Linked DNA regions of Homo sapiens: region 1 is linked to region 2. Evidence: fine-mapped expression QTL. A gene starts in region 2. The other region holds a variant in brackets. All regions are shown on one strand. Distances are from middle to middle. Region 1 overlaps SUPT6H (SPT6 homolog, histone chaperone and transcription elongation factor). Region 2 holds the start of ALDOC (aldolase, fructose-bisphosphate C).

Region 1 (15,337 bases), 100 kb after region 2:
AGAGCAGTGGCAGGTTGCTAAAAGGCTGTTTGTGGGAAGGTTTAAGAGCCCTCTGTACAATCATGTGTCCGTTTTTTTATCCTTCACTCTTTTCTTTCCCTAGTTATCTTCAGGCAGAGTGAGAAGCTGCAGCAATGTCTGATTTTGTGGAAAGCGAGGCTGAGGAGTCAGAGGAAGAATACAATGATGAAGGCGAGGTGGTACCCCGAGTCACCAAGAAATTTGTGGAAGAGGAGGATGATGGTGAGGAGGCCCCAGCCTCAAGCTTCTCCCCACTATTGCTAAGCTTTGGATAGTTGGATTCTTGCTGATGAAAAGCTCAGGCTCAGCACAGAAGTTATCACACATGAGGTACCAGCTTGAGAACTTTCAGTCATTCTTAGCAGATACTAACTGAGCATCTGTCTGTATGCCAGGCACTAGGCCTGGAACTAGAAATATAAAACAATAAATATCCAGCTATTGTGGAGTTTACTTTAGTTGGGGGGTGGTTGATAATAAATCAGTAGATAAGTCTGTATATAATACTTTCTGCTTTTAGACCTAGCATTGTTGATATTTATTCACCTCGTTTCCTATTTCTCTGGCCAAGCCCAATCTTTAGAATTGTCAACAGAGTAGAACCACGAAATGACTTCAAAGGGGTAAAGGGACGTACAAGTTTTATCAAAGGAATTATGGCAAAAAAAAGGAATATAGCTGCTGAGTTTACAAACTGAGTAAAACAAAGTTATTGGTGGCTATAATAATCTAGTAATGATTTTGAGAAGCCAAAGTGACGGGGAAGATCATCCTGCCCAAAGACAGATGGTGAATGTAGGGGAAGAAAACATTCTTTCCAGATGCTGCTACTCTAAGTCAATGGCTATGTTTTGCATCTTTACATGAGGCAGAAGAGTTAACATGGCACCCAGGTCATTAGGTGCAGAGCAAATGGATAATCACATTAATCAAGTGACCCTGAACCTCTAGCCTGTTTTTCAGTCTCCATGCCTCAAACATGCATGTCTTCCAGATGAGGAGGAGGAGGAGGAGAACCTAGATGATCAGGATGAGCAAGGCAACTTGAAAGGCTTTATCAATGACGATGATGATGAAGATGAAGGGGAGGAGGATGAGGGCAGTGACTCTGGTGATTCAGAAGATGATGTTGGCCACAAGAAGAGAAAACGCAGTGAGTAGTCTGTCGTTGGCTCAAGTGAGGCTTGGGTGGAGGTTGCAGTGGAAAAGGGCAACCCCATCACCATGGGCAACACTTTGTTTCTTCAGCCTCTTTTGATGACCGCCTGGAGGATGATGATTTTGACCTCATTGAGGAGAATTTGGGTGTCAAAGTCAAAAGAGGAGTAAGTGTCATTCTTTGTCTTTTGTCCCTGGGGGTAAAGGAAAAAGCCCTGGAAATTTCAATGTCTGTGGGTGAGGAGGCACACGCAGGACAGTTTGGAGAACATTAGAGCACGGTGTTCGGTATCATTGTACTACGGAGCCTAGATTTGCATCCCAGATCTGGGTGCCTGTTAGAGAAAGTCTTGTCCAAGTTTCAAGGATGGGCTTTGAGGCTACAAGAGCATCACTCGGCATGTTCTTTCCCATCTCTCTTGGTCAGAGTAATTGTGGTGGGAAGAAGGGAGTGAGACTGGAGATTTGGTATCCGTATGCCAGACTCCTCAGATCCTGATAAGGCAGGTTTTCCCACCCCTAGCAAAAGTACCGGCGTGTCAAAAAAATGTCAGATGACGAGGACGATGACGAGGAGGAATATGGCAAGGAGGAACATGAAAAAGAAGCTATTGCGGAAGAAATCTTCCAGGATGGGGAAGGGGAAGAAGGGCAGGAGGCCATGGAGGCCCCCATGGCTCCTCCAGAGGAGGAGGAAGAAGATGATGAGGAGTCAGGTATGTTATATTGGGCAGGGAAGCCAGTGTTTGGATGGGTATTGGGATTTCCTGGCCCATGGGAACAGGATGGAAACCATTCTTTAGCTACATCCCCCAGCATTTGACACAAAGAAGTTCCTTTTCAGGAGCTTCCCTTCTCTGTTGCTCACTGGCCACTCACATAGTAGGAACCAAAGCAATTTAGTCCTGGCTCAGCCCCTGACTCTGAGCCCCAACCCATCCTTTTCCTACCCAGATATTGACGACTTCATTGTGGATGATGATGGACAGCCTCTGAAAAAACCTAAGTGGCGGAAAAAGCTTCCTGGATACACAGACGCGTGAGTGGGGTCTGGTACAAGGTGGGGATAAAGTGATTGAGTGGGCCCAGTCAGGAAGGAGGAGATCAGAGGCCTTTGCCAAAAATGGGGCATTCCCAGCTTGCAGCCATTTTGCTTCCCTGCCTCAAATAACCTCTACCAGGCAGTGATTTCAGACTGCTCCCGGAAGCCCTGGGAGCTGTCTCTGCACTCTAGGACTACTGTGGGATTGGAGTAGAGTCCCACATGGGCAAGGCTCCAGCATTCCTCTTCCGCCTACAGCTCCATGTTTATTCAATTATATATATATTGACATTCTTAATATATTTTTGTTGGAAGACAAATGCCCGCATCACAATTTACAAATTTGAAAGCTTTTGCCCTGAGGGAATACTGTAATGCCTTAGCAGAAGATGGGTCCACTGAGCAAGACATAGACCCGTCTGCTCTGTTGCTATTTGATTACTGTCACTCGAAGGTGCCAAAGATGAGCTTTTTAATCTTCCATATACAATAGTTTGCCCAGAAATATCCGCCAATGAAGCCTTTCGTCCACAGTGAATATGGTTATTTTGTTTACCTTCCTCCTAACCCTCTCAGTTCCCTTGGGACAAGTAAAGGATCTATGCAAGGGCTGCATTTCTCTCCTCTCACCTGAACCTGAGCCACCTGCCTCTTGCTGCCACCTACAGGGCCCTGCAAGAAGCCCAGGAAATCTTCGGTGTGGACTTTGACTATGATGAATTTGAGAAATACAATGAGTATGATGAAGAACTGGAGGAAGAGTATGAGTATGAGGATGATGAGGCTGAGGGTGAAATCCGAGTGCGCCCCAAGAAGACCACCAAGAAGCGTGTGAGCCGTAGGAGCATCTTTGAAATGTATGAGCCCAGTGAGCTAGAAAGCAGCCACCTCACAGATCAGGACAATGAAATCCGAGCCACTGACCTGCCTGAGAGGTTCCAGGTAAAAAACCACCAGCCTCTGCTCTTCTACCAATCCATAATTACCTTGTAGCCAAGAAATATTCTAGCAAAAGTCTGGCATTGAGTATCCAGCACAGGTTTGAACCTCATCTCACCTGGGGCCTGGGAAATCCAGCTCTTAGAGAAGGGAAGATAGACTCTACCTTGCTTACGGTTCTAGAAATACTGTTTTCTTTAGAAATCTGTGAAATGCAGTCTGGGTGCTGTGGCTCACACCTATAATCCCAGCACTTTAGGAGGCCAGGGTGGCAGATTGCTTGAGTCCAGGAACTCAAGACCAGCCTGGGCAACATAGGGAGATCTTGTCTCTACAAAAAATACAAAAAACTAGCTGGTTGTGATGGTGCACACCTGTAGTTTCAGCCACTCAGGAGGCTGAGGTGGGAAGATTGCTTGAACTTGGGAGGTCACGGCTGCAGTGAGCCATCATTGCACCACTGCACTGCAGCCTAGAAGCAGACCCTGTCTCAAAAAAAAAAAACCATGAAATGCTTATGGCCAGGCACGGTGGTTCACACCTGTAATCCCAGCACTTTGGAAGGCCAAGGTGGGTGGATCACCTGAGGTCAGGAGTTCGAGACCAGCCTGGCCAACATTGTGAAACCCCGTCTTTACTAAAAATGTAAAAAATTAGCTGGGCGGCCAGGCACGGTGACTCACGCCTGTAATCCTAGCACTTTGGGAGGCCAAGGTGGGTGGATTGCCTGAGCTCAGGAGTTAGAGGCCAGCCTGGGCAACATGGTAAAACCCTGTCTCTACTAAAATACAAAAAAAAAAAAAAATTAGCTGGGCGTTGACAGCATGCATCTGTAATCCCAGTTACTTGGGAGGTTGAGGCAGGAGAATTCCTTGAACCTGGGAGGCGGAGGTTACAGTGAGCTGAGATCGCGCCATTGCACTCCAGCCTGGGCAACAGAGCGAGACTCCATCTCAAAAAAAAAAAAATCAGCTGGGCGTGGTGGCGGGCACCTATGATCCTAGCTACTCAGGAGGCTGAGGCAGGAGAATCATTTGAACTCCGGAGGCGGAGGTTGCAGTGACCCTAGATCGCGCCGTTGTGTTCCAGCCTGAGCAACAAGAGTGAGACACCATCTCAAAAAAAAAAAATGCTTATTTCATGCCAGAACAACACTGGTATGGCATTTGTAGAACAATACTGGAAATGTGCACTTGATGATCACACGTTTCTGTCCAAAAAGGTATGTTTTTCTTAAGTGAGACACAAGATAAAGTC[C/A]GTCTCACCCTGTTGTCTTATCCACTCCAGCTCCGCTCCATCCCAGTCAAGGGGGCTGAAGATGATGAACTAGAAGAAGAAGCTGACTGGATCTACAGGAATGCTTTTGCCACACCAACCATTTCTCTCCAGGTACACAAAAAAGATCCTTAGGTTTTGACATGAACCAAAAGACACTTCATCAAGATGGGGAGCTCTTCCTCCCCTATTTCATACATCCGTGTGCCTGGTATTAGAAAACTGTGTGTATGTAGTCCCAACAAGTGTGTGTATATGAGAAAAATTTTTTAGATTTCATCTAGAAAGGTTATCCTTTGTTATTAAGCAGTCTTGTATGGTAAGACAAACCAAGTAAACATTGTCTTGCTATTTCTTTATTTTCCTACTGTAGGAAAGCTGTGATTACCTAGACCGAGGGCAGCCAGCCAGCAGCTTCAGTCGGAAAGGGCCCAGCACAATTCAGAAGATCAAAGAGGCCCTGGGCTTCATGCGAAATCAGCATTTTGAGGTAACACCTCAAGCTCTGGTGGCCCATTGGTGAGAAATTTAGTTAGGGGATGAGGGAAAAGATAATTACCTAAATGAGGTGGGAGCCCCCTTCCCGTATCCCCTATCCATGACTCAACAAGTGTTAGGACCAGCAGAGACCCTAGTGATCGTAAGAACAATGCTACCCTGTCTGCAGCTTTATTTTCTCCTATTGAGGAAAGCACCAGGCCCTGGAAGGGCTGTGAGGGAGGCCAGGCTTCTGACTGTTGAATTTCCTGGAGCTGTTTCTCCAGGAAGTCATTATCTACTGACAGAGGGGATCTTAGCAAATCTGTCTTCTCTGAGTGACTGCAGTCTCTTTGCCATCCTAGGTGCCTTTTATTGCCTTCTATCGAAAGGAGTATGTGGAGCCTGAGTTGCACATCAATGACCTATGGAGAGTCTGGCAGTGGGATGAAAAGGTAATGTAGATCCGTGGCCCCCAAGAGGTGTGGGCCAGGGAAGGCACCATTACTACCAGGATACCACAAACCCAAACCCCCCAGGCCTGTCTAGTCCTCCCCCACTAGGTTTCTGGTAAGGATCAGAGCAGCCTTGAGTCTCCAGGGCTGAACACAAGCTCTCATTCCTGCCCTACTTCACCTTAGTGGACCCAGCTGCGGATCCGTAAAGAGAACCTAACACGGCTGTTTGAGAAGATGCAGGCTTATCAGTATGAACAGATCTCTGCTGACCCTGACAAACCTCTTGCTGATGGCATCCGGGCTCTGGACACCACTGACATGGAGAGGTAAAACATGCGGTGTTTATTCCATTATGGGAAGCCCTCAGACCCCAAGGCTGGCCCTGCAGGAGCACTGTTAAACCTTGGAGAATGTGTAGCACAGGGCCCCATCCCTTAGAAATCCAACTTGTCAACCAGGCACAGTGGCTCATGCCTGTAATCCCAGCAATTTGGGAGGCCGAGGCGGGCAGATCACTTGAGGTCAGGAGTTCAAGATCAGCTTGGCCAGCATGGTGAAACCCCATCTCTACTAAAAATACAAAAAATTAGCTGGGAGCAGTGGCACACGCCTGTAATCCCAGCTACTCAGGAGGCTGAGGCAGGAGAATTGCTTGAACCTGGGAGGCGGAGGTTGCCGTGAGCTGAGATCGTGCCACTGCTCTCCAGCCTGGGCAACAGAGCGAGACTTCGTCTCAAAAAAAAAAAAGAATTATAGCTTGTCAAAGCCAGGCGTGGTGGCTTCTGCCTGTAGTCCCAGTTACTTGGGAGGATGAGGCAAGAGTATCACTTCAGCCCAGGAATTCAAGGTTGCAGTGAGCTATGATTATGCCACTATACTCCACACTGAGTGAAAGAGCAAGATCCGGTTTTTTTTTGTATTTTTAGTAGAGACAGGGTTTCAGTGTGTTAGCCAGGATGGTCTTGATCTCCTGACCTCGTGATCTGCCCGCCTCGGCCTCCCAAAGTGCTGGGATTACAGGCATGAGCCACTGCGCCCGGCCGATCCTGTCTCATAAGAAAAAGGGGGCTGGGGCCTGGCACGGTGGCTAACGCTTGTAATCCTGGCACTTTGGGAAGCCAGGGCGGGCGGGTCATGAGGTCAGGAGTTCGAGACCAGCCTGGCCAACACAGTGAAACCCTGTCTTTACTGAAAATACAAAAATTAGCTGGGCGTGGGGACAGGCGCCTGTAATTCCAGCTACTCGGGAGGCTGAGGCAGGAGAATTGCTTGAATCTAGGATGCAGAGGTTGCAGCGAGCCGAGATCGTGCCACTGCACTCCAGGCCTGGGCGACAGAGCTAGACTCCATCTCAAAAAAAAAAAAAAAGAAAGAAAGAAAAAGGAGGCCAGGCGCAGTGCCTCATGCCTGTAATCCCAACACTTTGGAAGACTGAGGTGGGCAGATCACCTGAGGTCAGGAGTTCAAGACCAGCTTGGCCAACATGGTGAAACCCCGTCTCTACTAAAAATACAAAAAATTAGCTCGGTGTGGTGGCAGGCACCTGTAATCCCAGCTACTCAGGAGGCTGAGACAGGAGAATCGCTTGAACCTGGGAGGTGGAGGTTGCAATGAGCCGAGATCGTGCCATTGCACTCCAGCCTGGGTGATGAGCAAAACTCCATCTCAAAAGAAGAGAGGCTGGGCGTGGTGGCTCACACCTGTAATCCCAGCACTTTGGGAGGCTGAGGTGGGCAGATCACCTGACGTCAGGAGTTTGAGACCAGACTGGCCAACATGGTGAAACCCTGTCTCTACTAAAAATACAAAAATTAGTCGGGTGTGGTGGTGCGTGCCTGTGATCCCAGCTCGCGAGGCTGAGGCAGGAGAATCTCTTAAACCCAGGAGGTGGAGGTTGCAGTGAGCCGAAATCACGCCATTACACTCCAGCCTGGGTGACAAGAGCAAGACTCCATCTCAAAAAAATAAATAAATACGATATGTTCTAGGGCTATCATGTGTCTTGGTTTTGTTTTTGTTTTTGTTTTTGTTTTGAGAGGAGTCTCACTCTGTCGCCCAGGTTGGAGCGCAGTGGCACGATCTTGGCTCACTGCAAGCTCCACCTCCCAGGTTCATACCATCTGCCTCAGCCTCCCAAGTAGCTGGGACTACAGGCACCTGCCACTATACCCTGCTAGTTTTTTGTATTTTTAGTAGAGACGGGGTTTCACCGTGTTAGCCAGGATGGTCTCTATCTCCTGACGTCGCGATCCCTCCGCCTTGGCCTTCCAAAGTGCTGGGATTACAGGCATGAGCCACTGCACCAGCTATGTGTCTTTAAAAAAGAAAAAAAGAAATGGTCTTTCTTCTGTTGCCTAGGATGGAGAGCAGTGGTGTGGTCACAGTTCGCGGCAGCCTCAACCGCCCGGGTTCAAGTGATCATCCCATCTCCAGTCTGGGCAACAGAGTGAGACCCTGTCTCAGAAAAATAATAACAATAGTAATAATAATTGGAAAAAACTGGTTGGGATCCCATTTTAGTTGGGATACTGCCTTTTGGGAATTGGACCTCTTGTAGCCAAATTGGGATATACCCTTTCTGCAGTGATGACTGAAACCTTATGTCTCTTCTTTTTCAGGCTCAAGGATGTCCAATCAATGGATGAGCTGAAAGATGTCTACAACCATTTTCTTCTTTATTATGGCCGAGACATCCCTAAGATGCAGAACGCCGCCAAAGCTAGCCGCAAGAAGCTGAAGCGTGTCAGGGAAGAGGGAGATGAAGAAGGTTAGTGCTGGAAAAGAAAATCCAGGAGATTTGATGGCCATGCATGATGGCTCACGCATGTAATCCCAGCATTTTCAGATGCTAAGGTGGGTGGATCACCTGAGGTCAGGAGTTCGAGACCAGCCTGGCCAACATGGCAAAACCCCATCTCTACTAAAAATACAAAAGTAGCCAGGGTAGGTGGCACATGCCGGTAATCCCAACTGCTCAGGAGGCTGAGGCATGCCTGAACCTAGAGGCAGTTGTTGCAGTGAGTTGAGATCATGCCACTGCACACCAGCCTGGGCAACAAACCGAGGCTGTGTCTCAAAAAAAAAAAAAAAAAATCAAGAAAGAAAACCCAGGAGACTTGACAGCCCATGGCATCTTGAAGGAGGCCCTTGGCTGGGTACCCTTTGAGGCTTCTCTCCTAATGTGTCAGATCCTTGGGAGTGATTGGAAACTAGAACCCTAAATCTCCCCATGTTTTCTTCCCAGGTGAAGGTGACGAGGCAGAAGATGAGGAGCAGAGGGGGCCTGAGCTCAAGCAAGCCTCTCGCCGAGACATGTACACCATCTGCCAGAGTGCTGGGCTAGGTAAAAGCTAGCTGCTTTGGGATTTAGGCATTCTAGCCTGAGCAAGGGGAGTTACCCAGAAAAAAGACTGGTAGGTAGGAAAAAGAAAGGCTATCTGGGTCAATCACCAATCCAATCCTGAACTAGCCTATTAGCTGGTCTTTAAAAATACTCCCTCTCCAAACCCATTCCCGCCCGACATGATGGTTCAGCCTCTCCCTAATTTCCTGAGATAATGGGAAACTCATGATTGGAGGGAGAGAGTCCAGTCTGTCTGTTTCTTCTGCCTTATAACAGCCCATCAAGTGTTTAAAATCAGTTTTTTCATTGTTCTTTGACTACCTGGTCCTGCTCATTTATGGCCTCTTTAAATTCCAGTGCTCTAGCTGGGCACAGTGGCTCACGCATGTAATCCCAGCACTTCGGAGGTCAAGGTGGGAGGATCACTTGAGCCCAGGATTTGGAGGCCAGCCTGGTCAACGTAGCAAAACTACAAAAAATACAGAAAAAATTAGCCAGGAGTGGTGGGACACACCTGTAGTCCCAGCTACTCGGGAAAGCTGAAGTGGGAGGATCACCTGAGCCCAGGTGGTTAAGGCTTCAATGAGCCATGATCACACCACTGCACTTTAGCCTGGGCAACAGAGCGAGACCGTCTCAGGAAAATAAAAAAGGCTAGTTCCCAGAATTCCAACTCCAGATTCTGAAAGCCAAGAGGTTTATCAGCCTATCTGCTGCCTTACCCTTCACTCTTCTGTTTGCTTTAGATGGCCTGGCCAAAAAGTTTGGGCTTACTCCCGAGCAGTTTGGGGAGAACCTGCGGGATAGCTACCAGCGGCACGAGACAGAGCAGTTTCCCGCGGAGCCCTTGGAGCTGGCCAAGGATTACGTTTGCAGGTAGGCATGCAGCAGGTGGCTGACAGGAGGAGGGGCCTGAGGACCACAACACCCTGGTCCTGTAGCTGCACCATTTTCCCCACAGCCAGTTCCCTACTCCAGAAGCTGTGCTAGAAGGCGCCCGCTACATGGTAGCCCTGCAGATTGCCCGTGAGCCCCTTGTCCGGCAGGTGCTGAGGCAAACCTTCCAAGAGAGAGCCAAGTTAAATATAACCCCCACCAAGAAAGGTAGAAAGGTGAGCTGGGTGAAGGGCTTTGATCCAAGATGTGCACCAGCTCTTTCTTTGATTGCCTGAGTTTCTTGCCTTCCACTTCACTGAGCTGTGTGTCTGAAAGCAGAAAGGCTGTCTTTTCTCCTGGGGCCTGGCCCAGCCCATCCGCAGGCTCATGATTCCCCCTTCATGTGTGCAGGATGTGGATGAGGCCCACTATGCCTATTCCTTCAAGTATTTAAAGAACAAGCCTGTTAAGGAACTGAGAGATGACCAGTTTCTCAAGATATGCCTGGCTGAAGACGAAGGGCTCCTCACCACTGACATCAGCATAGATTTGAAGGGAGTGGAAGGGTAAGCAGAGCCCTGGGCTGGCGACTCTCTGGGGAAGGCCTGATGAGGAGTCTGGTGGAGGGAAGGGCCCCTCAGGAGTGGGGAACCACAATTTCAGAGTTGAGCAGGCTGTTGTCTCTGGCTTGCTTAGAATGTTCATGGACATTGGGTGTCACCTTTTCTCCATTCCTGACACCATAGCTTTGTGTCTCTTCTCAGCTATGGCAACGACCAGACATATTTTGAGGAGATAAAACAGTTTTACTACCGAGATGAGTTCAGCCACCAGGTGCAGGAGTGGAACCGGCAGCGCACCATGGCCATCGAACGGGCTTTACAGCAGTTCCTCTATGTGCAGATGGCCAAAGAACTCAAGAACAAGCTGCTGGCTGAAGCCAAGGAATATGTCATAAAGGTGAGGACAGAGACTCATGATTTTTTTTTTTTTTTTGGTGACAGAGTCTTGCTCTGTTGCCCAGGCTGGAGTGCAGTGGCGCAATCTTGGCTCACTGCAAGCTCTGCCTCCTAGGTTGATGCCATTCTCCTGCCTCAGCCTCCCGAGTACCTGGGACTACAGGCGCCCACCACCATGCCCAGCTAATTTTTTATATTTTTAGTATAAAATATGTTATATTTTTAGTATAAAATAACATGGTTTTACCGTGTTAGCCAGGATGGTCTCAATCTCCTGAACTCATGATCTGCCCACCTTGGCCTCCCAAAATGCTGGGATTACAGGCGTGAGCCACCACGCCCAGCCGAGACTCATGATTTTTAGTCATATGATTTCCCCAAACTATAGTTGGGCATGAAGGAACCCCTTAGGAATAGTCCCATAGCTAATGGAGAAACACGGGGGGCAGGTGAAGCATAATCTGAGAGGGAATGCTAACAAGGCCACAGGGACCACCTCTAAGACCTCTCTGCTCCAGGAGCTTCTCCCCTCCCCCAGCCCCACTCATCCAAACATTCTTTGTTTATATCACTGTTCTCTGTATACACTCCTGTTTCCACAAGCAAGATATGCCTTCAGGTGGTAAGCCTGCCAATGGCTAGGAACATCTGCACATAAGAGTACACACCCTCGCACATGTGTGTATGAGTGTGTTTCCATAGCACTCTTGGTGAGCCTGATGACCATAATGTCATCATGTATGTAATACCTGTTGTGTCTCTTCCCTCAGGCCTGTAGTCGAAAGCTCTACAATTGGTTGAGAGTGGCACCCTACCGACCAGATCAGCAGGTGGAAGAAGATGACGACTTTATGGACGAGAACCAAGGGAAGGGCATTCGAGTCCTCGGCATTGCTTTCTCCTCTGCCAGGTAACAGCCTATTTTTGCCTCCCCAGCACCATCTCTTGTCTTCCTAATTTCATTTTTCTCTCATTCATAACTTCATATTGCTGATTATTGCATTCTTGTTTTTCTGTCTGTCTGGCAGAGATCACCCTGTGTTCTGCGCCCTGGTCAATGGTGAAGGAGAAGTGACAGACTTCCTTCGACTGCCCCATTTTACCAAACGGCGAACTGCATGGAGAGAGGAAGAGCGGGAAAAGAAGGCAAGTGGCTAGGACGAGGATACTAAGTGTACATCTGGAGTATGTCTTATGATTCAGTGGAGATAAGTGTTTACGGTCTAAGCAACATCCTATGCAAGACTGATTGTGTCTGATCTGGTCACTGACTTGTCCCCTGGGATGCCTCACTTCCATGAGCAGTAGATGGCACTCAAGTTATCTAGTACGGGATTTGCTTCTGGCTTGAGGCCAGTTCCTAGGCCTTGTGTGCTTCTGGAGTTGCTTTAACTGCCTCTTTTCTTACCAGCATCTGGGTCAGGCTGTTCCAGCAGCTGAAAGCTACTGAGGCATGAAGCCAGCCTTTTCCCTGCTTTAGCCTTTCAGGGTGTCTTTTTTCCAGGGAAAGAAGACTTTCAATTCATTTGGTTGGTATATTTCTGAATTTTGTTTATCCTAATGGTATCTGTAGTATCTTTCAGTTTTGTTAACAGAGCCCCATTCTTGAAAGAAAAACTTCTTAAGAAACAACTATTTTTTAAATTTTATTATTATCATTATTATTATTATTATTATTATTATTATTATTATTGAAACAGAGTCTTGCTCCATCTCCAGGCTGGAGCGCAGTGGCAAGAACTCACCTCACTGCAACCTCTGCTTCCCAGGCTCAAGTGATCCTCCTGCCTTCCAAGTAGCTGGGACCAGAGGCGTGCACCACCACGCCTGTCTAATTTTTGTATTTTTTGTAGAGACACGGTTTCACCGTGTTGCCTAGGCAGGTGTCAAACTCCTAGACTCAAGTGATCCATCTGCCTCAGCCTCCCAAAGTGCTGGGATTACAGGTGTGAGCCACTGCACCCAGCCCTTAAAATCTTGAAATGGAGATCAGAATATCTAATAGTCCTAACTACTCACATTTTAGCAAAAGTCACACCACAAATGAAATAGCCACAAAAGGAGGACATGCAGGAGTGTGAGGCAGTGGAAAGTAAATCATAAGAAACTGGACATCTTTAAGATGAAGGAAATCATACTTAACCATGTTGACCTTTTCAAAGGGCCCTCACCCAAAAGAGGGCAGCTACTAGTTCTTTGTTTTGCTTCATCAAAACTAGAACCAATGGCTAAGTATTAGATTTTGGTTTACAATAAAAAAGAACGGTTTCCTAACTTCATCCTTGGGACCTAGCCAGTGGCACCTGGTACCACTGGAGCGCAGTTCTAGTCAGTGGAATTATTAAGCAGAGGCAGGGTTGGCCAACTTTCAGGAAGAGGTGGGAATAGTTCCTTGGTAGCACCTTGGACCAGATATCTTCTGAAGACTTCCAGTTCTTACAAGATCTCCAACATAGGGAGACAGAATTTCCTGAAATCTTTACATCCTCAGAGCCATTCAGCTTCAATTTTCTTTCAATCCAGGCTCAAGACATTGAAACGCTAAAGAAATTTCTCCTGAATAAGAAGCCTCATGTAGTGACAGTTGCAGGAGAGAACAGGTAGGTAGGGATTAGACCACACCTGGTTTAAGGCCGTGACCCAACTCATCCCTTATTATTGAGTCTGGCATATGCCCATAACAGATGGGGCTTGTGCTTGTGCAGGGAGTGTCCCTGGGGATGTTTGACCTCATTTTCTTCAAAGCCCTTTCCTCCCCTACCTCTTCACCCCCAAGGCAGTCATGAGACTGTCCATCCCTAAGAAAACATATTCATTGACCAACACTCATCCCACCAGGGACGCCCAGATGTTGATTGAAGATGTGAAGCGCATTGTACATGAGCTGGACCAGGGCCAGCAGCTGTCATCTATTGGGGTAGAGCTGGTTGACAACGAGTTGGCCATTCTCTATATGAACAGCAAGAAGTCAGAGGTAATGCTGGAGCCTCACCCTTAGGGCCTGCCCAGGCAAGTGCTATTAATCCCAAAGAGATTAAATTGGGAAACAAAAGTTATCAGGGGCACAGGACTGTACCTGTGTACTTATCCATGCAGAAGTTCTCCGTTTTGCAGTTACGGTTCAGATTGGGAGTCCCAGAAATTAAATCGGTCTCAGGAAAAAAGATCCCAGAGAAGCAGAGAAAATGATTTAAACCAGAATGGTTTGGATTTCCTCTTGATGTTGTAGCTAAGGGGATTTTAAGGCCCTGCTGACCCTCGTTTGACTCTAGGCAGAGTTCCGGGATTATCCTCCAGTGCTGAGACAGGCCGTCTCCCTGGCCCGGCGCATCCAGGACCCTCTGATTGAATTTGCCCAGGTGTGCAGTTCCGATGAAGACATCCTGTGTCTCAAGTTTCACCCCTTGCAGGTGAGTAGGATTTGACAGGCAGGCTCGGGTGAAGGGAAAGGCAGAGTAACCTTACTCCTGCCTGCTGAATGTCCACAGGAGCATGTGGTGAAAGAGGAGCTGCTCAACGCCTTGTACTGTGAATTTATCAACCGAGTCAATGAGGTCGGGGTCGATGTCAACCGTGCCATTGCCCACCCTTACAGCCAGGCCTTGATCCAGTATGTTTGTGGCCTGGGACCTCGGAAAGGGACCCACCTCCTGAAGGTAGGATTGGAGTGAATTCAGAAATTTTAAAACTTGCCATTTCATTGAATATGAATATATACTTTGTCAGTATAATTTGACAGATTGGGAGGACCAAGGTCAGTGACTTGTCCAAAATCACTCAGCTAGTGAGAGTCAAAAGAGTCTGACTTCAGACCCAGTTGGCCAAAGCTGTGCCCTTCACTGCTGCTTGCACCACCACACCCAGCTAATTTTTTGTATTTTTAGTAGAGACGGGGTTTCACCATGTTGGCCAGACTGGTCTCAAACTCCTGACCCCAGGTGATCCACCCGCCTCAGCCTCCCAAAGTGCTGGGATTACAGGCATGAGCCACTGCGCCCGGCCAACTAGTGTTAACTTGTAACTTATAAGCCATACATTAGTTGTATATGGTCTTTGGTGTAGGTATAACATCATTTATTTGTTTATTATTTTCCCATTTAAAGCAAAACTTTTTTTTTTTTTTTTTTAATTTTGAGTGGTCGATAGCATGCTGTAGTGCTCAACTAGATACTGGGTGGGACAGAGTTTTTGTTATGAGGGTTTAATAGAGACTGGAACAGTCTGGGGAGGTGGGGCCTGCTTACTGCCCTGGCTCAGTCCAGCTCTCTCCCCCAGATCCTGAAGCAGAACAACACCCGGCTCGAGAGCCGGACCCAGCTGGTCACCATGTGCCACATGGGTCCCAAAGTCTTCATGAATTGTGCTGGCTTCCTCAAGATCGACACGGCCTCCCTGGGGGACAGGTGATGCCCTCTGCCTGGATGGGGCAGGAGGAATTCCCTTGTGGGCTTTGTTTTCGGGTTTCAGGGGTTAGGGCTATCAAAGGGCCACAAGCCATTTTAACTTAGGAAATGTTTTAAAGAAAAGGTAAGGAACTTTATTCAGTCAAGAGCCCCTGACCTATGGAAAAGATCGGTTCAATCATGTGAAACATTTTTCGTGTGAGAGAAACATAAAAAGTACCAGCTTAGCTTATAAATTAAGCATGGAAAACACAAGATTTTGTTCAGTAAACACAAACTTGCTTTTTTATTATTATGGTTTGTTGTGGCCAGATAAGGGTGGGAATAGCGGGGGCAATGAAAAAGGAGTTTGGGGGTATAAAGAGATAAGGAAGGGGGAGAGAGAT
Region 2 (11,998 bases):
ACAGGCAAAGTAGAATGTTTTGCTACCATTTATTTGCTGTATGGTATGTACTCAAGGCATGAGTCAGGGCTTCTGTACTACCCTCTGATCCCAGGAGACAGGGCAGGCAAGAAGGAGAGCCCAGGGAGAAGCTACCTCATCATGGGAAAATTGTGGGAGCTGGAAGAGGTAGGGGGAGACCCAGCCATCCTGTTCTGACTTCTAGCAATTTCTTCTGCCCTCAGTCATGAGGGGCTCCCTATCCTCCCATCCTATGGTCCCAGGTGCAGCAATGAGAGAGGGGAAGGGAAGAGAGAAAGGAAGACAAGTTGGTGCCAGGTGAAGGCATCTCTGCTCTGCATAGCTATTTGGCCCTGGCCATGACTACAAGCAAAAGTGGGTGCAGATGGCTGGGCCAAGGGCTGTGGTATGGAGTGGATACTCAGTAGGCATGGTTGGCAATGTAGAGTGACTGTGCTGCTGCTCCACCATCTTCTCCACTGCCTTCATACTTGCCCTGGGCTGCAAGCCCATTCACCTGCAAAAGGGAGCGTGGAGTAAGCAGGCTGAGCCAGCCCACAGGTGCCAAGCCCTGCCCAGGCTATAGCCTCTGGGTGCTGCCCCCACCCACCACCACCTGTAGCTCCCAACCTCAGCCCGCTTGATGAACTCCTCAGTGGCAGCCCCAGCATTGTCCCGTTGCCCTCGCCAGGCATTGAGTGCAGAGGCTTGCAGGGCACGCCCATAGGAGAAGGTAAGCGCCCAGGGTCGGGGAAGGGGGCAGCGGTTGATGGCATTGAGGTTGAATGATGCCTCTTCTTCGCTCTGACCCCCAGACAGGAAGGTCACTCCTAGTGTGGAGGAGAGAAGACAAACTGACTGGTCACTCCCAATTTTTCCAGGATAGGGAACCCCTGAAGGCCACAAGAAGGACCTGAAGATGGGCCTTAGGGATAGGAGCAGGTTAGGGAGCTGGGTAGTACCTGGGACAGCTGGGGGCACAGTGCGACGCAGGGCAGTGACAGTTGCCATGGCAATCTCCTCTGGGGTATACTTGATGGGACAGGCATGGCCCGGGGTCACCATGTTGGGCTTGAGCAGGGTCCCCTCCAGGTATACATGATGGTCACTCAGGGCCTTGTACACAGCAGCCAAGACCTGGGTGGGGATTAGAGGAGGTTTACTAAGGGTCTGGGCCCCCACTGGTTACTGCTCGATGCTCCCTATGTAGGGGTAGATGGGCACAGACTGTGAGGGCTCAGTACAGGCTCAGATCACAGGCCTGTGCCGGGATGAAGTGAAAAAGTGCTAGGGGAAAGTGTGCCTGGATCTAAGCTGGGGGTTCTGGGGAACAGACACTCCTGCCGAGCTGTCCCTGCAGTATGTTTGTGTGCCCAGGTGTGGACTCACCTTCTCTGTAACATACTGACAACGTTTGAGGTCGTGGTCTCCATCAGGCAATATTTCAGGTTCCACAATAGGCACAATGCCATTCTGCAGGCAAGAGCAGAGATGCTTGGGAGGGGCAGTAGGGGAGATGAAGAAAGCCTTGTGACTCTCTCCCCACCAGGCATACAGGGCACCTAGCTCACCACCCTCCCAACACACACACCTGCTGGCAGATACTGGCATAACGGGCCAGCACGTTGGCGTTCTCCAGAATGGCAAGTGCAGAGGGTGTACGCTCACTGATTTTCAGCACACAGCGCCACTTGGCAAAGTCAGCACCATCCTTCTTGTATTGGGCACAGCGTTCTGAGAGCCCATCCAGCCCTGCAAGCACAGTGCCAACCTCATTACTCTGCCCCTCTTTTACCAGCATCAACTATCTAACACCTCTTTGGTCCTCAAGCCCACCCATCCTATACCTTGAGTGGTGGTTTCTCCATCAGTCCCAGCTAGAGGCACCACACCCTTGTCAACCTGTAGAGGAAGTACAAGCAGAGGGTTGAATCCAGGCAGGATTCTCCTTGCTACCCCTCCTACACAAGCTTATTTTCACACCCAGCTTCCATTCAGAGCAGGGCCAGGGGCTGCACCTTGATGCCCACGACGATGCCCTTATCCTGGATGGTTCGGACGAAGGGAACACCATTATCATCTTTCTGGTAGAGGGTCTCATGGAAGAAAATGACGCCTCCAATGCACTTTTTCACACGGTCATCAGCACTGAACAGGACCTGGCGGTACAGCCGGCGGTTCTCCTCTGTGTTTTCCACCCCAATTTGGCTCAGCCGCTTGGCCATGCTGCCTAGGGGCAAACAAAGAGAGGCAGTGAGAACATCCCCAGGGTCCCCTAGCCACCTGTACCCTACCTGGCTACAGATGTCCACTTACCTACAGACTCATCCGCAGCCAGAATGCCTTTGCCCGGGGCTACAATCCGCAGGGCAATGTCAGACAACTCCTTCTTCTGCTCAGCAGAAAGGGCTGGGTACGAGTGAGGCATGGTGACAGCTCCCTGGAGTGGAGACAAGATAAAAAAGCCAGACCTCACCCTCTGCTGCCTCTCCTGGCCAGATGGGCCAAATGGCCTCCCCATCAAGCAAGGGGCTGGGAACAGGGCAGCAGTCCTTGGCATGAGTCCTGGGCATCAAGTGGCACCAGTCCTTCTGACAGCTAGCAAGCTTAGGGCTCCAGTTCCCACATCTCCTTTTGTCCCTGGTAGGCATCCTTCCCAGCCCTGGGGAAAGATGCAGGGTGGGGGTGGGGAGGTGAGCAGCCCTGAAGCCACAGCTCTTCTGATAAATCTGCTGCCCAATCAAGGATGCCAACCCTTCTTTCACTGAACTTGGTCCCTTGTTGAGGTAGGCAAAAGTCCTGGCCTTTCCAGCTTCCCTTTTCTCATCCTCCACAGGACCCCTAGGGAAAGTGTACTTACTTCCAAGGCTTCAGAATGAGGCAAAAGTACTTATTGCCACCCTCTTCTCTCAGCTTCTAGAGGAAAAGGTTGGAAGAACAGGTAGGGAGTAGGAGTGGCACAAATACCAGTCACAGGCTCCTGCAGCTTCTCCTTTTCTGTACTCCAAACCTGCCTGCCTATGCCTATTGCCTATTCCCACCCAGTACCAGAGGTTGGCCCCAGTGGGGCTGCAGTGATGTAGGAAAGAGGGCCCAGCGGGTCAGCTGTGTTAGTGTGTGGAGACTAGGGCTAGTGACACCTCCGGGTCATCTCTGTGCCCAGGAAGCACTTCACCTGTTTGGCAGGAGGATAGCAATAGGAAGCACTTCAATTCCCCACAACTCAGACACCCAGACGGGAGGGCAGAGGACCAAGGCTGAAAGGAGTAGAGAGCCTGAGAGAGAGATGAGACTGAGGGGAGCTAGTGGTGATGCAGGCTAACCAGTCAGCGGGAGAGACCTAGACCGGGGGGCAGAGAAGGCGGGAGAACTGGAGAGAGGACCTAGCCTAGGAGGAGAGGGAGCAGGCTGAGAAGGAAATGCTCTGGGTAGGAGAGACAGACTCCAAGGAAAAATCCAACAAGTAGAGGAGGATTTGGGATTGGAAAAGCTGAGGTCCAGCTGGGAGAGCTGAAGAGGGATAGAACAGAAGAGGTTGAGCCATGGGGTTTCAAGTACGCGGAAAGGAGCAAAGATGTTAGGAAAGGGTCGAAAGGGCACATCCCGGAGTCCCAGGTAGCAGGACGAGGATGGCAGGGGAAGAGCCAAGGAAATGAAGCGGAGATGTTGAGTGGCTCCCGCCTTGCCTGGCCTTACCTGTGCGCAGCCAGTTAGCAGCCGCAGCCACAAGCACAGCTCGGGTTCTGATCCGCAAACAGATGAGGCTGCAGCCCTGGCTCCCTCTGGTAAATGAGGCTGCGGATGTCGCAGAGCTACGTGACTCCTCCGGGGGCGTGGCCTGCATGCCCCGCCCTGACCACACCCCCTCCCCAGGACTGGTGTCCGGGGCAAGACCACGCCCTCAGAGGCGGGGCGGCGAGGTGGAGTGAGCGCCCCGCCAGGCATCCGTGGCTGTTAGGGACTGCCCTCCCACCTCGGGGAGCCTGGCCATGACCTTGCGTTCATTTCTGCCACAATCCCTTTACCACGTGCCGGGCACTTGCTGGATGCTGGGGATTAAGCTTAGTCTGGTGAAGAGGAGGCACCAGAACAGTAACAACAGGTTGAGTAGGTGGGGCAGAAGCATCTTCAAGGTGCCCAAGTTCAGGGCAGGAAGTAATGAACTGAGCTTCTCTGTCCTCACCCCCATATTTGCCAGGGTATACCCCCGAGGGGGCTGGGGAAAGTAAGAGAATGAAGCCTTTCTGTTTCCTCCAGGCGGTGAGCCAGGGAACAAGCAGTCCAGTGCCCAGAGTTTTGGTGAAAGCAGAGGAAGGGAGGAAGGGCAGGCAGCCTTGGCTTTGGATGCAGCAGGAGGTGGAGAGGGATCTATGGAGGGTGCCCAGGCAGGAGGCCCAAGCTGCTTCTTCCCTGACTTCATCATCCGCCCCCTCTCACCCAAAAAGTAAGATTCCGTAAGCTTGGAGAAATTCATTAAATACACTTTATTTAAATAGCATTTATCTCAGTTGGCTCTATGCCAGTTGGTCTTGGTATTGGGGTAAGGGGGTATTGCAGGTAAAAAGAGGTGAAGCAGATTCTGGCTTTCAGTTTCTTAGCTCAGAAATTCCAGCAATCCCTGTAGTTCTTTGCATCCCCTCACCACCTCTGGAATAGAGAGCAGGGTCTGGGAAGAGAGGCAGAAAACGCAGCTCAGGACCACAGACTTAAGGCCCAGGGCTCCCAGCCCCAGGAGGCAGCCGCTGAATTAGAGGGGAGAAAACAGACACCACAGAGAAGCCTGCAATAGTGATTCAGGCCCAGCTCTCAGCACAGGCTGGGAACCAGATCTGTGCTCATTAGTACCTCCTGGGGCCAGGCCTTGTACCAGGTTCATTAGTGATATCACCTCCCTCCTGCCTATACCTTATAAATATGCTGAACAATGTCATCTAGTTTTTCTAACTCCTTGTCAGAGCGCCGAAGGTTCTCCTCTAGGATATTTCTCTAGAAAGCAAACAGATTTTATAAGTCCTATGCATAAAAGAGCAAACTTGGTAGGACAGGGGAAACATGGCGGGGCATTTGTTAACGATGGTAGGAAATGGCCCTGGAATGGCATGGACATTCTTACATGGCTCTGGAACTTGATCATGAGTTTTTCCTTCTCATTTTTCATCTCCAGGAACATCACTCTCAGTTTGTCCACCTAGAAATATGTCCAGATCAACAGGGGTACAGCCTGGGGTCCCCACCTGCTGTCCAGCTCCTCTGTTAACTCTGAGTCACCTCCTGAGAGAGCCACACTTTCTCCTGGATCCAATTGGTGGCCATAGGCTGGCAGTTGGAGTCCAGCTGGCCTGCCAGGGCCTCCTGGAGCACTTTGGTCTCTGTCTCCGCACGCCGAAGTGAGCGGGTAAGGTGGGTCACCTCCTCTCTAAGGCTCTGGGAATGAGAATGGAGAGGTGTCCAATAGGACATAAGGATAGACAACATGTGGTGAACAAAAGCAAACCATTTCTCATACTTGGGATCCTGGCTGACCAGTAACACAGAAGGCAAAGGCCTGGGCATGATGGTGAACATACTATGAGCTCGCCACTCTTGTCTATCTGTTCTAGGATCTTCTCATTCTGCTGCTGTATCACTTCCTGGAGCTCCTTTTCATTCTGTGAGGGAAAGGGAGGTGAGAAGACACATGAAGAGCTGGTCTCTTCACAGCCCTTGCCAGGAGGTAGGAGAGAGTGCCTGACCCATGCTTAGCCCACATGGGACCAATTGATATCACGCCAATTCTTTCCCCAGGGCCAAGCCAGGCAAGGCACATTTCAGTGTTGGGAGAGCTCTGCTAGAGTTCCTGACTTCTCTCCTGAGTCAGCCTGGGAAGACAGGTCAGCCCATAGCTGACATGTGAAATGTCTGACCCCAGGAAGGGCAAAACTAGGGCAGTGGTTGGAAAATCCCCACCACCCAGATTCCTGGAGAGATAATGGCTCCCAGTGGGCCAGTAGAGCTGCCCCAGTTCTTCATCGCCCCACTTCTAGGTCCCTCCTTCACCTTGTAGCGCAAGCACAAGGCCTGGTTCAGCTTCTCTATGTCTGCTTCTTTTGCCTTCTGGACTTCCTGATGCTGTTCTTCCTGGGCCTGCAGCCTAGCTTGCAGCTCACAACTGAAGGAAGGAAGAATTTAGCAACATTCCTGTCCTCTCAGGGATCAGTTGGACCCTTGGCATAAGAGGATGTCTCACTGTCCCTCTGTCACCAAAACTGCATCCCACTCACATTTTTCGCTGCAGAGTCCTGATGGCTTCTTCTTTAGACTCTTGTAGCAGGGAACAAAGACTCTGAAGCTCAGTAGTCATAATACTCATTTCTGCCAGGCTCTCCTCCATGCCTGGGGTCTCTGAAAGAGAAAGTCCCAGATAGAGGTCTAGCCTTCCAGCCCTGGAAGGAAGGAGTGTATAGCCATCATTTCCACAACTCTTATCCGTGTTCCCCACCCACAGGATTTGAATGTCTGGAACATTACAGATCCCAGAAGGCAGAAATAAAATGAGCCCAAGTAGAATTGAGGTTTTTAGAGCAAAGCACTTCTCACTGCTTTCGTCTTTACTCATCACCACCAGATTTTCTAGAAATGAGGCAGGATCCCTGGAGCCCCTCCTAACCTGCGGGCTGAAGGGAAACCATTGATGCTACTCGGGTGAAAGCACTCTTGTCACTTCCAAGCAAGGGCACAGGAGTTGATTCTGGCTCTAAGAGAAAAACCAATAATGGGAGAGGGCCCCTCTGATGATCCAGGCAGGGGTCTACCATAATGGAAGCCAGGGTAAGATAGACAAGCCCGCTGGTGGACATCTTCAACAGCAGAAGATATCAGGAGCAGCGTCACAACTTTCCCACCCCCAAATCCCAGGGCCTTTAACCTTCATCTGCCACTGCTGTCAAGATGCTTCCCAGGAAGGTCCTGTCATTAGGCAGAGGGTGTTCCTGGGTGGGAGGACAGGCTGTACTCAGCAGAAGGGTCTCTTGTTCAGTCTAAGGGCAAAGAAGAAAAAATAGCTGCTGTTCAGGTCTAGTGAACTCCTGGGCTTCCAGGTAACTCCCAGCCATCTCCTCCAAAATGCTGTTCCACCTATTATCTCAATTCTCTATCTTCAACTTCTCCATTAGTGCCTTTCTCTGAACATGTTTATATTCTTAAGCCTCTCCAACAAAAACAGCAGTATTTTAAAAACAAACCTAAACAAAACAAAACAAAACCCTTCTTCTTACCTTAAATCCCCTTTTAGCTACTGCCTTTTCTAGAAAGAAAGGAAAGAAAGAAAAAAGAAAGAAAAAAAGAGCCTATACTTCTTGTTTATAACTCTCACCATCTATTGACTCCCCAGCCCACTACACTCAGGCTTCTCCCCTGTCATTCCACCTAAATTCTTGTCATTTGGTTCACCAATGGCAGCCTTACTTTCAAATGCAATGCATATATTTCAGCTCTTGTTTTACCTGACCTATTTGATATTGATGACCACATTGTTCTTTTAGAAACTTCCTTTTCTTAGCTTCCAGGACATGAGTCTCTCTCCTTTAAAGGCAGGCCCCACACCTTTCTGGTTATTTCTTCTCTATTCACAGGTCCTTCCTTAACTGCTGGATCCTCTGGGTTAAGTCCTTGGCCCTAAATTTACTCTAATTCATTCCCAGGGTGGCCTTGCCTTGGGAGCATCACAAAAACATCTACTTCAAACTTCCCTTCCACATGAATGACTCTTCCATCCCTCTCTCAACTTTTTCCCAGTCTTTTTCCCAGTCTGCAGACTCAAAGGCTAACTGCCTGTGAAGAATCTACCAGAAGGTTCCACAGTCAATCTGTCAACTTAGTATGTATGAAGCTGAGTTCACCATTTTCCCTGTGCCCTGATAGGGAACACCCTATCAAAAGTCTGTTCCTACTCCTGTATTTACTATTCTAGAGCAGGGAGAGGGAAGGCTAGCAAATTGTGGCCTACAGGTCAAATCTAGCCTGCCAACTATTTTTGTAAATAAAGTTTTATTGGAACACAGCCAGACCCATTAATGGCTGTATCATCTATGGCTGCTCTTGAACTACAAAGGCAGAATTGAGTAGTTGAGACAGAGACCATATGGCCCAAAAAGCCAAAAATACTTATTATATGGCCATTTATAGGAAAAGCTTGCTGGCCTCAGTCCTGAAGTAGCTGTGCTTGTGGCTGCGGCTGCTAACTGGCTGCGCACAGGTAAGGCCAGGCAAGGCGGGAGCCACTCAACATCTCCGCTTCATTTCCTTGGCTCTTCCCCTGCCATCCTCGTCCTGCTACCTGGGACTCCGGGATGTGCCCTTTCGACCCTTTCCTAACATCTTTGCTCCTTTCCGCGTACTTGAAACCCCATGGCTCAACCTCTTCTGTTCTATCCCTCTTCAGCTCTCCCAGCTGGACCTCAGCTTTTCCAATCCCAAATCCTCCTCTACTTGTTGGATTTTTCCTTGGAGTCTGTCTCTCCTACCCAGAGCATTTCCTTCTCAGCCTGCTCCCTCTCCTCCTAGGCTAGGTCCTCTCTCCAGTTCTCCCGCCTTCTCTGCCCCCCGGTCTAGGTCTCTCCCGCTGACTGGTTAGCCTGAGTCACCACTAGCTCCCCTCAGTCTCATCTCTCTCTCAGGCTCTCTACTCCTTTCAGCCTTGGTCCTCTGCCCTCCCGTCTGGGTGTCTGAGTTGTGGGGAATTGAAGTGCTTCCTATTGCTATCCCTCCTGCCACACAGGTTGAAGTGCTTCCTGGGCACAGAGCTGACCCGGAGGTGTCACTAGCCCTAGTCTCCACACACTAACACAGCTGACCCGCTGGGCCCTCTTTCCTAGCAATCTAAGGATCATCATTCACTCTTCTAACTTACTCTCACATCAAATTGGTCACTCTTACATCAAATTGGTTCTACTGCCTCTGCTTCCTAAATATCTATTGAATCCATTCACTCCATCCTCTCCTTTCTACTGCCTATAAAACTGCCATTATTTCAAGCCTTCAAAATCTGGCCTCCTGCCTACTTCTCCAGTGTTGTCTCCTGCCTTGCCCCACAGAGCTCTCACGCTGCAGCCATGAAGAGCTGCTTCCCATTCCTCAGACTTGCTGCATTCCATATGAGCAGCATCTTGCCTTGTTCATCCTCTAGTCCCAGCACCTAACCCAGGTTTTATAAGGTAGACACTATAAAAAAGAACACATCATGTACTATGTGCATGACTTTCTACGTACGACTCTCATATGTAGTCAGATGAAACTTTCATACACCGTTCCCTCTGCCTAGTGGGACTTCCTAAATACCCTCCCCTGCCCCACAAACGTCTAAACCTCAAGACTGTACCCAAGGTCAGCTGCTTTGAGAAGGCATCCTAATTCTCGAAGGCTGAAGTGGTGCTCCCCTCTCTATCTCTCACAGTGGTCCATGCAGACCTCTACCATGATCATAAGTCAAGATGACAAGTTTACATCTGTTTGTCTTCCATGCTAAACTGTAGATTTGATGGCATTTCCTGTGCTCGGTACCCAGTTGGGGAAGAGGATCAGGTCATAAGCAATTGCCAGATTTTAGGATATTTGTTGTGCCTTATCTGCTGAATAAGCTAATTACCTTTGTATTCTGAATGATGTCAACCATTTATTGTTTAGTGCACACTGCAGGGAGGCCAAAGAAGGCTATATTTCTGCTTTCTTGAAACATAGTCTGGTTGAAGAGACCAGGTATCCAAGGAAAATTAATACAAATACAAAAGAAGAGTAAGTTCATGAGAAATATGGCAGAAGAAAAGATCACCGGGTCCACATGATTTGATTTGGGAACAGTTCAAAGAAGGTAAACCAGGGAAGATTTCTTTTTTTGTGGGGGAAAGGGTTTCACTCTCACCCAGTTTGGAGTGCAGTGATACAAAAAAATTAGCCAGGTATGATCATGGCTCACTGCAGCCTCAACTTCCCAGGCTCAGGTGATCCTCTCACCTCAGCCTCCCAGATAGCTGGGACTACAGGTTCACAACACTACACCTGGGCTAATTTCTGTATTTTTTTGTAGAGATGGTTTTCACCACGTTGCCCAGGTCGGAAGGGAGGATTTTAATAGAAAAGGCATTTCCAGTTTGAAGAAAGAATAGAATGAATGTGGGAACAGCCAGAGTCTGGGTTCTGGGGATAAAAATGGGGACATGTGTGTAGCATACAGGCAGTCTAGCTGGGGCAAAGTGTTCATAATAGGGAGATAGGAGACAGGGGAAGAAAGGTTTGAGCAACAGGCTAATGAGGTCCTGTAGGTAACTGAAATCATAAAAGGTCACAGTTAGAAAAAGAGTAATGTTTTAGGAAGACTATCTGTAAAATAAAGATACAATTGGAAGAGAAGAGAAGGAACCCCAGGATCCTACCTTCTCCTTTAGTTTTGTCTGTAGAAAGAGAGTCAGGCTCTGTAGTTGCTCAGTCAGCAGCCCTAGCTTTTGAGAGTACTGCCGTGTTTTCTCCAGATCTTGCTCCTGGTTATCTGCTATGGTGCTGGCCAGTTTAGCCCTGAAATAAGGAACAGGGAAGATGACCAAAGACCAAATTACCTTCTCTGAACGCCTATCCCAAATCCCCACAGAGCTGCATTAAAGGAGAGAAACAAGAGGCTCAACACTCACAGTTCTCTTCTTGGAGATTTTGGCTTCTAGAAGTGTTCCTGAGAAAAAAATAAGCACTTAGGGGGAAGTACAGAAAGTTAGAGAACTTACGTTAGGTTCTCTACAGTGTCCTTGAGGTTCTCACACTGCAAGCTGCGCTCCCGGAGCACTTCCAGTGTGGTTTTCAATTGACACTCAACCTGACCCAGCTCCAGGTGAGCAACCTGATTCTCCTGGTCTGCAAACTGGGAAGACAAGAGAAGGAGCAAGACAGGGAGGGAGAATTTTAGTGCCCTGGGTACAGAGGCTTTTTCTAGTTCACAGTCTCAAACCTTACCTCAACACTATCAGGCAAGAATCACACTCCTGAGGCTTACCAGCTCCCTTGGCCCAAGCCATATTCCTTACCTCCAAGGTCTCTTTCAGGTCCCGCACCTCTTTGGCCAGGACAGCTTGTTGCTGCTGCAGTTCTGCCTGCATGTGTTTTAGTGCCATCTCTTCCTTTTGCCATCTGCCAGAGACAACATATTAGATCCCATTTGGTCCTAAATCCTGGATGCCTACTGCCACAGTACCCCGTTAGGAACTCACTGAGCAGCCTGCTCCTCATTGCTCTGGGTAAGCTGGCAGAGTAACTCATCCTTCATAGCCAGGTCCTGGGCACAATGGGTATGCTGACTCTGTAGCTCTTTTAGCTGGCTGTCCATGTTGGCCAGAATCTGCAACTGAGCCCGGAGATCTAGAACAAAAGTATCCTAATGACACCATGCGGTCAGCAGGCTAGAAACTCCCCAAACTTCTGCTCCAAAGCAAGTGCTCCTGAGTACTTCCTTGCTCTAGTGCCACACTCCAAGCCTTAACAGGGCTCAAATGCTTACATGCATGCATACACACACACACACACAAACACCTGTTGCTAGACGACTGTTTTCCAACTCCAGTTGTTCTGTTTGGCCTTTGCACTCCTCTAACTGGGCAGAGACTTGTTCCAGCACCCTAGAAACCTAGGAAGAACAGATGGTTTTCCTCCTATAGTTCCTCCTGAATCAATAATCCCAGGACTTGGTCCAGCTTCTCTTTCTGGACAAGACAGAAAACTACCTTGCTCCTGGGCATCAACATTGCAGAAAATAAGGTTGATCCTCAGGAAAAAGTAGAGACAGGAGAAAAGTTGCTGAAGTAAAGATGCTGAAGGGCAAAGGAAAAAACTGCGCTTAAGGCCATCTTACAGCTAAGAGACCTTACTGGCTGGCCTCCAAACCCACAGGGTGAAAAGAAAACAGATCCAGGGTAAGAGGCTAATGGTATCACACATTAGGAAGGAAACCAAGCCTAAGCAGTCCCCACTCTTGGTTTGTACC

Evidence for each region. PIP is the estimated chance that this variant, and not a neighbour inherited with it, causes the effect.
Region 1: its variant is fine-mapped to the expression of ALDOC in whole blood (INTERVAL, PIP above 0.99).

Annotation. Positions count from the first base shown.
Region 1 is chr17:28,673,268-28,688,604 of GRCh38, forward strand. SUPT6H (SPT6 homolog, histone chaperone and transcription elongation factor) reads left to right here. Exons shown (of 37, transcript NM_003170.5): 2 at 104-243; 3 at 1,016-1,174; 4 at 1,270-1,346; 5 at 1,703-1,895; 6 at 2,134-2,218; 7 at 2,890-3,163; 8 at 4,448-4,549; 9 at 4,809-4,925; 10 at 5,278-5,367; 11 at 5,554-5,696; 12 at 7,989-8,137; 13 at 8,615-8,713; 14 at 9,460-9,589; 15 at 9,675-9,825; 9 more. The coding sequence starts at 135. Among named protein-coding and RNA genes, the nearest start is that of SUPT6H, 19 kb to the left of the region's middle. The variant C/A (reference allele first, on the strand shown) is at 4,418.
Region 2 is chr17:28,573,105-28,585,102 of GRCh38, forward strand. It overlaps ALDOC (aldolase, fructose-bisphosphate C), which reads right to left and starts at 3,791. Exons shown (of 9, transcript NM_005165.3): 1 at 3,697-3,791; 2 at 2,317-2,440; 3 at 2,019-2,230; 4 at 1,848-1,902; 5 at 1,592-1,752; 6 at 1,390-1,473; 7 at 963-1,137; 8 at 631-830; 9 at 16-517. The coding sequence starts at 2,428. The coding sequence ends at 422. SPAG5 (sperm associated antigen 5) reads right to left here. Exons shown (of 24, transcript NM_006461.4): 10 at 11,998; 11 at 11,548-11,641; 12 at 11,229-11,376; 13 at 11,046-11,148; 14 at 10,749-10,882; 15 at 10,407-10,545; 16 at 6,905-7,016; 17 at 6,647-6,733; 18 at 6,261-6,381; 19 at 6,037-6,148; 20 at 5,568-5,648; 21 at 5,269-5,424; 22 at 5,114-5,188; 23 at 4,906-4,986; 1 more. The coding sequence ends at 4,595. RefSeq lists a silencer at 3,724-3,963 and an enhancer at 4,014-4,193.